Regions from separate parts of the Homo sapiens genome. Here region 2 is linked to region 1. The links come from fine-mapping of genetic effects on plasma protein levels. A gene starts in region 1. The other region holds a variant in brackets. All regions are shown on one strand. Distances are from middle to middle.

Evidence for each region. PIP is the chance, under the fine-mapping model, that this variant and not a neighbour inherited with it causes the effect. The UK Biobank Pharma Proteomics Project read protein levels with antibody pairs (Olink). The fine-mapping took linkage between variants from a reference panel, not from the people measured, so its PIPs are less certain.
Region 2: its variant is fine-mapped to the plasma level of the FCRL5 protein (UK Biobank, PIP above 0.99). The variant lies in the coding sequence of FCRL5. If it changes the protein, the assay may bind it differently, which can mimic a change of level.

Annotation. Positions count from the first base shown.
Region 1 is chr1:157,550,328-157,555,867 of GRCh38, reverse strand. It overlaps FCRL5 (Fc receptor like 5), which reads left to right and starts at 3,353. Exons shown (of 17, transcript NM_031281.3): 1 at 3,353-3,536. The coding sequence starts at 3,506.
Region 2 is chr1:157,532,413-157,537,412 of GRCh38, reverse strand. FCRL5 (Fc receptor like 5) reads left to right here. Exons shown (of 17, transcript NM_031281.3): 8 at 2,521-2,799. Among named protein-coding and RNA genes, the nearest start is that of FCRL5, 18 kb to the left of the region's middle. The variant A/G (reference allele first, on the strand shown) is at 2,737.

The DNA of each region.
Region 1 (5,540 bases):
TGCATTTCTCTGATGGCCAGTGATGGTGAGCATTTTTTCATAAGCCTAAGTAAGTACCTTTACCAGTAAAATCTTCCAAACATTTAAGGAAGAAATAACATCAGTCGTACACAAACTCTTCACGAAAATAGAAAAAGAAGGAGCTTGCTTATGAGACCAATATAATTTTGTTACTAAAATTCATCAAGAAAGAAAATTGGTCCATCTTCCTCATGAACACAAATGCTAAAAAGCACAGCAAATTTATAAGTCAAATTCAAGAATATATAAAAAAGATAACACATCATGGCCAAGTTGGAATGCACAGTTGATTTTACATTTATAATCATCCATGTAATTCATCATATTAACAATAAAAGTAAATAATCATATGATCATATTAATAGAGGCAATAAAGGTATTTACTGAAACAGCATCCATTATTTAGGAAAAAAGGAAAATTTCTTAGCAAATTAGAAATATAAGGAAAGGTATTTAATCTGATACATAGTATTCACCAAAAAAAATTACAGAAAATATTATATTTAATATTGAAATATTAAGAGCTTTTTCTGTGAGACTAAGACAGGACACCTGATATTACCACTTCTCTTTAGTATCATGTTTGAGTTCCTAGTCAGTGCAATAAGTGAGAGAAAAGGAAGTTTAAGTATTAAAAATAATGAATAAAACTATCATTATATGATTGTGTTTGCATGAAATCTAAAATAACCTAAAGATAAACTATTAAAATTAATAAGTAAATTCCGCAATTTTAGTAGATATTAAAAGGTCAGTAAGGCCGGGCATGGTGGCTCACGCTTGTAATCCTAGCACTTTTGGAGGCCAAGGCGGGCAGATAACTTGAGGTCAGGAGTTTGAGACCAGCCTGGCCAACATGGTGAAACCTCATCTCTACTAAAAATACAAAAATTAGCTGGGCATGGTGGCAGACACCTATAATCCCAGCTACTTGGGACGCTAAGGCAGGAGAATCGCTTGAACCTGGGAGGTGGAGGTTGCAATGAGCCAAGATCGCACCAGTGCACTCCAGCCTGGGGGACAAGAGCAAAACTCTGTCTCAAAAAAATAAAAATAATGGTCAGTAAAACAAAAAAGTATTATATTTCTATATACCAATATACATTTAGAAAAAAATCTAATGATGTCACTTACAATATCATAAAAAACATATCAATAACCTAAGGATAAACCTACCAAAAGATATACTTTCCAGAGGCAAAGCTATAGAAAATTACTGAAAGAATGTCAAGTTAACCTAAATAAATGAGGGGATATTGTATGTTTATGGATTGGGAGACTAAATCTTTTCTAATTTATACAAATTAACTTATAAATCCAATGCAATCCCAGTTATTAAAAATCTACTAGGCTTTTGGGGAGAGAGGGGACAGGAATTGACAAGGTGATTTTTAAATGTATAGAAAAATTCAAAAAGCCAAAAATAGCCATAACAATTTTGAAGAAGAACAGCATTTTATGACTTAAACTATCAGTTAATAAGAGTTATTATAAAGCCACAATAATTAGAAGAGTGTGGTATTGGCATGAGGATAGACAAAATAGACTAATGGACAAGAAAGGAGTTTCCAAAAATAGACCTACATGGCTTTTTGTTTTATAACAAAGGTGAAATTGCACTGTACTGTGGAAAAAATCAACTTTCAATAAATAGGGCAGGATAAATTATCTGTATTTAAGTTAAAAGTGAATATAAACACTCAAACTGTACACAAAAATCAATTGCAATGCTCTTATAAATATAAAATAAATGGTAAAAAATAAAGTTTCTAGAAGATAACCTGGGAGAGTATCTTTATGATCTTGGAGTAGACTAACTTTCTTAGAAGGGATGCAAAAATCTCTAACCACAAAGGAGAAGACTGATAAACTGGACTATGTCAAAGTTAGAATGGTTGTTCATCAAAAGGCACTATCAATGAGCAAAGAAGCAAGCCACAGATTGAAGGAAGACATTTGCAATACATATATCCAACAAAAGGTTTATATTCAGGGTTTAAAATAACTACAAAACAGGAAAAGAAAGACTGAAAGTTAAGAGAAAAATGAGGAAATATTTGAACAGAGATTGCACATAAAAAGGATATCTACATCACCAATTAGACTATGAAAAAATGCTCATTCTCAAATTCACCAGAGACATACAAATTAAAACCACATTGAGATAATTCTAGCAGAACGGCCAGATTTTACTAGATGACAATACCAATATCAGCAAGAATTTTAGAACAATGATAACTCTCATACATTGGTTGGTGGGTGTGGTGGGAATTGGCACAACCACTTTGGAAAATAATTTGGTAATACTTCCTAAACTGAATATATGCATACCTTATGAGCCAGGACTTCCACTCCCAGATATATACCCAACAGAATTATGTGCGCATATGCCCCAATAAATGTATACAAGAATGTTCATAGCAGCACTATTTGTTTTAGCACCAAAAGTAGGTAAAGATTCTGTGTTCCCTTTGAAGTTCTCCTCTTAATCTCTATTCACCCCTGTAACCCCTGTATGGTTTTCTTGCCTCAGGGTGCAGTGGGTCAGATGTGACATAATATACCTAAGGTGATGTGCATTTGTAGATATAAAATTAAATGCCCCCTTAGGAAGACCAAGGTATGGGCCCAGAGAGAAAGGGTGAGAAAATATTTGAAAGAAAGAAACTGGCACTCCTCGTGGCAGCTAATGTCTTAGGAACCTCTGTTGACCAGTATACCAGGATGGAAACTTGACTTTTAGAAAATCATAAGAGCTATACATTCACCTGGTAATTTTTTAAAAAATCAAACGGTACAGAAATACATAAAATAAATTGTGTTCTTCCCACCTATTGCTCCTCAAACATAATCAATATTTTTGTGTGTACTTTCCAGGAAAAGAAGAAAGTATACTTAAAAGAGTTGATGTACACATATATCCTATTTTTTATATTTACCCAATGGGATAATACTACAAAACCAATCTATATCTCACTTTTATTCTCTTCACATCAAACAAGGTGGTCTTCCCTTCTTGGCATGTTCAGATTTACCTTATTCTTTAATGATTGCTTGTCACCATACGGATGAATCAGAATATTCTTAAACAGTCCCCATATCATGGTTTTTTGTTTTGTTTCCAGTGTTTAGGCAATAATGAATGCTACAATAAACGTTCTTATAGTACTCTCTTCAGATACTTCCTTCAGGGTAATTTCCCAATAGCAAAAATGTAGGGTCAAGGGTATTTGATTTTTTAAAACCTTAACTTTTTTTTTTCTTTGATCATCGGGTAGGAAACTGTGATTAGCAGCTGAAGACGGGTACTCCCACTTCCTTTTTTCAATTCACTAATGCATTCTGCTCTTTTTGAGAGCACAGCTTCTCAGATGTGCTCCTTGGAGCTGGTGTGCAGTGTCCTGACTGTAAGATCAAGTCCAAACCTGTTTTGGAATTGAGGAAACTTCTCTTTTGATCTCAGCCCTTGGTGGTCCAGGTCTTCATGCTGCTGTGGGTGATATTACTGGTCCTGGGTGAGTAAAAGGGCTCACCATGGGCCCTGGGTGGGATCGGGACAGCTTCTCTCTCCACCGCAGGCCTGGTCCTTTCTTGGGGCTCAGCCCCTGCTGAGAGACTCTCTCCTACATTAGGAGACTGTATTTTTGAACTTTACTCTGTAGCTCAGGGCTTTCTCTTGAGGCTGAAGAAAATGGCCACAGCTGGAAGGAATTTTCAATCTTACAGAGTAGGAAACCACAATAACCACAACAATTAAAATTTCATTTATTTTTTTCTTTAAAAAGTACTTCTTAAAGTCCAGAGAATGTTTCATGTTTGTTTGTTCATATTGTCTTACTCATAGAAGAGCCCACTCTCCTCTCTGCAGAGGAGATGTATTTATTCCTTGTATGACAAGGCCAGATCCTGGTCCCCAGCATAAGAGGCAAGGTTTCTAACGGGAAAGACAGGTCTTTCTCTTGTACATAATTGCAAACCACTGCAGCAATTGGCTGATTAAGAACATGGGGTGGAGGAGGTCGCAGAGGCGTAGGTGGACAAAGCAAGGATAAATCTAAAGCATATGACTTTCTCTTTGTCCCTGTGGGTGTACGTAAGTCTCTATCAACTCATATGTGCGAACTGGTTGATTTTTACTAAAGGTTAAATATTATAATTAAATATGTTTATTTATTTGTTCAGCAAATGTGTTTAGTAATATCTATGCACAGGTGCTGAGCAATTAGAGTCCATAGGAGACACTACGTCTATGTTCTGGAAAGTCATGACATAGAAGGGCTCCCAGCAAGGCCAATGTACTTTCAAGCAGCTATGCAACAAGCTCCCAGTTAAATAATTGTCCAGGCAAAGTTACCAATGAATGCTGTAGGCAGATAATAAACTGTATTCAAAATAGCTAGTAAAGACTTCATGAAACTTAGAGGTGAGTAGGAGCTAGAGGAGCAGAAATGGAGCAGGCGTGATATAAGAAAAGAGGACCTCACAGTTGGAAGGTGCATGGACTATAATTCCTGAAGTAGGAATACATCTCAGTGTGGCCCCACACAATGTGGGTAATGGCCAGGTCCTGAGCATGAGAGGGCAAAGTTTATAACATGGGCTCTGGGGTCAAACAGGATCTAGGTTCAAACTTCATCTTGCCACCTACTGGCTACCAGATTCCTGGTCTACAAAATGCAGTTAATCCTAGTGCTTACCTCACAGGATTATTGACATGGTTATATGAAATAACCTACGTAAATGCAGACCATATAGAAACCACTCACAAAAATATTAGCTTCATTTAAAACAATGCAAAGATGAAGGAAGCCAAAATATTCAGGTGAATGGTGAATAATTTGTTGTTCTCAGTAAAACACTTAAGTTTGGATAAGTCTCCAATAGCCTCATGTGGACAGGGATGATTTGTCTCTCACACACTCCTGGATTTCTATTGCCTTGCTCTGGAGTATGATTGGCATTCCAAAAATCTGTTGAATAAATAAATCAACCCATATGCAGAATACCTACTCAATTGATAAACCTGCCAGTTTTGTGTCCTCTCTCTCTTCATTACCCATTTCTCAAATCTCTATCCTTCTATTCCTATATTATTAACCTAGTTCTTTAATTAATTCATTATACAACACAAATATATTTAGTGAACATTAAAGGAATATCTTTTATATGCCATTCACCGTTATAGGTCCTGGAGGATATATGGTGAACATAAGGAAAGTCCTAGGTCTCATAGAGCTTGCATTATAGAGAAGGGAAAATAAACAAGCAGATAATGAAGATAATTTGGATAAATACTCTGACAAAAATTACACATTACCATCTCTTGGGCTGAGCATCAGGTCTAAATAATCTGAGCATCAGTTGATTGTTTAAAAATTAGGCATGATGATAATGAGCCCTTGGATTCAATGATCTCATGAAAAGAGTATAGCCTGGAGTCTGGTGCCCAAGGGAGGCTTAATTCATGTCCATTTCCTTGCCCTGCCTTCTAATCAGTCTCCCTGCTTCATATTGTCCCA
Region 2 (5,000 bases), 18 kb after region 1:
TTTATTAGGCAGGAATTTCCTCGTCCTAATAAGCCTGGGAGCACTACAGGAGACCAGAGCTTATTTCATCCCTCAGCAACGATCATAAAAGACAGCCATCCCCAAAGCGGCCATTTCAGAGGCCTCCCCTTAGGGACATATTCTCTTTCTCAGGGATGTTCCTTGCTGAGAAAAAGAATTCAGTGATATCTCTCCTATTTGATTTAGAAAGAAGAAAAATATGACTCTGTTCCACCCAGCTCACAGGCAGCCAGAGTTTAAGGTTATCTCCCTTGTTCCCTGAACATTGCTGTTATCCTGTTCTTTTTTCAAGGTGCCCAGATTTCATATTGTTTAAACAATTTGTGCAGTTAACACAATTATCACAGGGTCCTGAGGTGACATTCATCCTCAGTTTACAAAAATGATGGGATTAAGAGATTAAAGTAAAGACAGGCATAGGAAATCACAAGGGTATTGACTGTGGAAGTGATAAGTGTCCATGAAATCTTCACAATTTATGTTCAGAGATTGCAGTAAAGACAGGCATAAGAAATTATAAAAGTATTAATTTGGGGAACTAATAAATGTCCATGAAATCTTCAAAATTTATGTTCTTCTGCCATGGCTTCAGTTGGTCCCTCCATTCGGGGTCCCTGACTTCCCGCAACAAGATGAGACCTGATGGAGAAGAGGATTGTGGTGAGGGAGGGAGGACACTTTCAAGGAACTGGAGAGTGGTCAGTTCTTGATGACTGAACCATAGACAGAACAGTGGAGAACCACAAGATAAGGTTGGGGAAGACAACATCATTAGAACCTACTTAGAAGCAGAGTAAGGGCTTGGGCCATATTCTGCAGGGCAATCTGGGCTCCATGAAGGTTTTAAATGTTGGGGAAAACCACTCCAGCAGTACAGTGGGGATCAGGTCATAGAGCAACCTGTTTGAGGAGCAGCCAGGCGTGAAGGAGGGAGCCCAACAAGGGAGTGTCCAGTTGGACAGAACCCCCAGTCTAGTCCCAGTAGAGGAAATGGGACATGAGAAGGAAGGACTCTGGCCAAGGGAAAAGGCACTCACTGTGAGAGTGTGCCCCACTGTCACCAAGGGTAGAACATGTTCTAAGCAGATGATAGTGAGCCAGTTTGGATAAGGCAAAGCTAAGAGATGATGAAAGATAAAAACTGAGTCATGGCCAGGAGAGGTGGCTCATGCCTGTAATTCCAGCACTTTGGGAGGCTGAGGCAGGTGGATCACCTGAGGTCAGGAGTTTGAGACCAGCCTGGCCAACATAGTGAAATCCTGTGTCTACTAAAAATACAAAAATTAGCCAGGTGTGGTGGCGGTCGCCTGTAACGCCAGCTACTCAGGAGGCTGATGCAGGAGAATTGCTTGAATTCGGGAGGCAAAGTTTGCAGTGAGCTGAGATCATGCCACTGAATTCCAGGCTGGGTGACACAGTGAGACTCCATCTCAAAAAAAAAAAAAAAACTGAGTCACATCCAGTGAATTTAGCCACAAAGTACCCTTTGGCAGAAGAACACAGACTAGAACCAGAATACCTGGGTTTGACTGCTGCCTCTTCACTTACTAGCTGTGTGACTCAACCACTCGGGGCCTCAGTATTTTCATCTGTGACATAGGGACAACAATAATACCTACCTCATTGAATTGTTTTGATGATTAACTTAGTGTCTTTATACATATAGATATTCACAAATTACATCTGACAAATATACACACACCAGAACTTAAAGGCACTATAATCTCATTATAACAAATATCTTTTTTATATTTATCATTATCATCATTACTACATTCATAAACATGAAAAATCAGCTTTAGTAGATTATTGGGGGTAAAAACTGAGTTGTAATGGACAGAATATGCATATGAGATATGAGATAAAGAAGTAGAGATGATAAATGTAGGTCACTTCTTCCAGAAGTCTGTCCACAGAAAAGTGGAGGAACCAACTGTGAGGAACTTCAAATACAAATAAAGTTGTTTTTGAATTGTCTGATAGTTTTTCTTATATGGAGATAGTTAAACACACCAAAATGTAGTTTGGAAGAAGCCAAAAGAGGTAAGGACTTTATGTCTAGGACAGAGGCAGATGTGCACAAGGTCAAGAGACATAGGAAAATCCCCCTTGGGCAGGCCAGGCATGGCTCTTCCATGGTTGCAGGGAAGCCTGCATGGTTGCAGGAAGAAGTGAGGAGCGGTGCAAGTGAGTCTGGTGGTGGCAAGACAAGGAATTTTTTCCTTGAAAGCATCATCTCCTCTGCAAAAAGGAGGCAGGTCACACTACAAGAGGAGCCATGAGAGAAGAAGAGAGTATTGGTCTCCTGGAAAGATGAACAGATAGGGAAAGACCAGCATGGAGGGCTGGTCACAGAAACCTGAGAAGTTGCTTGGCTGCCCTCCAGGTAGGTGAAGTCTAGAGATCCTGTACTGGAGACTGGGCATCTGCACTGGCCAAGTGTTGAAATCTACAGTAAGAGGCAAAAGCAACTCTTGATTCAATCTTTCTCTTCCTCAGTCCCTGTGTCTCATCCTGTCCTCACCCTCAGCTCTGCTGAGGCCCTGACTTTTGAAGGAGCCACTGTGACACTTCACTGTGAAGTCCAGAGAGGTTCCCCACAAATCCTATACCAGTTTTATCATGAGGACATGCCCCTGTGGAGCAGCTCAACACCCTCTGTGGGAAGAGTGTCCTTCAGCTTCTCTCTGACTGAAGGACATTCAGGGAATTACT[A/G]CTGCACAGCTGACAATGGCTTTGGTCCCCAGCGCAGTGAAGTGGTGAGCCTTTTTGTCACTGGTAAGTGCTGGGTTCTTGCCAGTCACCCACCCCTGGCTGAGTTCTCTCTCACCCATTCCTTTAAAAATCTGTTTGCACTGTCCAGTTTCCTCCCCTAATCAACTTAATCCCCTTCTTGGCTTCCTCCTCAACTAACTAGCTGGGGTTTTCCGTACTCATAAGTCCTGGCTCAGCCAGACCCCTAAAACAGCTCAGTAGATTCCCCAGCTTTTACCAAATGAATTTATTTATTGTATTTTCTCCTCATTCCTTGTATGTTCCAACAGTACGCCAATTTTTCTTGATGCACGGAGCGTGTCCTACTTCTCTACTGACATTTACATATTAACTTAGCTACAAGCACAGTCTTATAGATAAATATTGGTCAAGACCTTAAATTCTCCAAAGGATTTCCAATCTTATGGTAGATTTGGAGAAAGCTGCTGGTGAACAAAGGGGGAAATGGCTCCCTAGGAACCAACTCCTCAAACTTCTGGAGTTTTTATGATCCCTTGTTTTCTAACCTGCTAAAATCAGTATCATTTTATTGTATTATTTTAAAAAAACTATTGTTGAAGTATGACATACATTCAAGAAACGTGTGCAAATTGTATGTGTACGATTTGGTGTCTTTTTAGGAGCTAAGTTGCTTCTGTTTTTACTTGAATCTTTGTTTATAGAAACTGGGGGAAAGTTTACTTTCTTTTCAGAGAAGCCAAATGGTATGATAGAAAAATCTTGAGCCTGATGTGTCAGACATGCCCCTAGCATAACTTGTTGAGTAAAGAGGTTATTTTTAAAATGTGAATGTTCTGAGACTACTCCAAAGTCAGAGCCAAATCTACTAGGAAGCTTCTAGACTTCACTCATTCTGCATCCCATTACTATCTTTTTATCCATGTTTTACTTTCTTCTCATATTCAGCAGCATCTTAAGCCTCTTTATTTTCTGTTTCTTGACTGTCACCCTTAATGCCAGTAGAATGTAAGCTTCATGAGAACAGAACTGCATCCATCTTGGTCTTCACAACATCCCTGTGCCTACTCAGTGTTTGGCACACAGTAGGTCCTCAGTCAACATTTGTAATTTAGTGGACAGATGATATGACAAGATGATAAGAGGGGATTTAAAAAAATCATCTAGCAAAGCCCAAGAGGAAAAAAAACAAAGCTATTTTAGAAATGAAATACCAATTTGAAGCAGTAAGAATAGATTGGATATCTTTGAAAACCATTAATTGAATGAAGAACCAATTTGAGAAAACAATACAGAATGCAAAGTAGAAAGATACAGAAATAAAGGCAAAAATTATAATATGGAAATCAGACAATGGATTTGTCTGTATCCAGTTATGTGGATAATTAAAATGGAGACCCTCAGAAAATTGAACCGAAGAGTAAAATGAAACTCAAAAATGTAGTAGAAATTGTTGGGAAGTAAAGAAAACTTGAATATGTAGATCAGAACATATATGTTGATGACGTTATTGACTTTGAGGTTAAAAATATATATATGTGCCTATGATTATGGGGAAAAAAGCAGTCGTCTCAGAAAGAAAAACATCAAGTTAGTCTTAGACTTTGCAGTGCACTCAATACCAAAGAGAGAGGAGGTCCAGACTTGGACCTGCGAGGGAAGAATAATAACCGAAAATTTTATATCAATTCAAAAAGACATTGTCAAAAATACAGGGATTCAGGAAACTGAGAATGCACTAAGCCTTCTGGAAAAAACACCTAATGACAAAATCTAGCCCAACAAGATGTAAATGAATATAAAGGACTCATAATGAGGAAACCGCATTATGACTGGCTCTCAACCCTGGCTGCATATTAGACTCGTCAAAGACCTTTGTAAAAGGTCACACATTGACTCGTCAAAGCCCCTCTCCAGACTAATTCAATTCAGAATCTCACAGATGGGGCCACAGAATCAGTATTTTTTGACACAACCTCAAGTGAGAATATTGTGTAGACAAGATTGGAAACCACTGATTTAGATATAGAAACAAAGGCTAATCAACTGTGAGAATTATGGTCACAGAATAGAAAGTAACTATTATGAACACTGAAAATGTAAAAAAAATGTAACAAAGAAAAATAGTTAGAGGAAGGAGAGGAAGTAAAGGAACAATCATTTTCTCATGATTATTATTATTTCAGAGTAAATTGTGAGTTATTTCACAATTCAAAAAGAATGGACTGTTTTAAAAAATTAGTAAT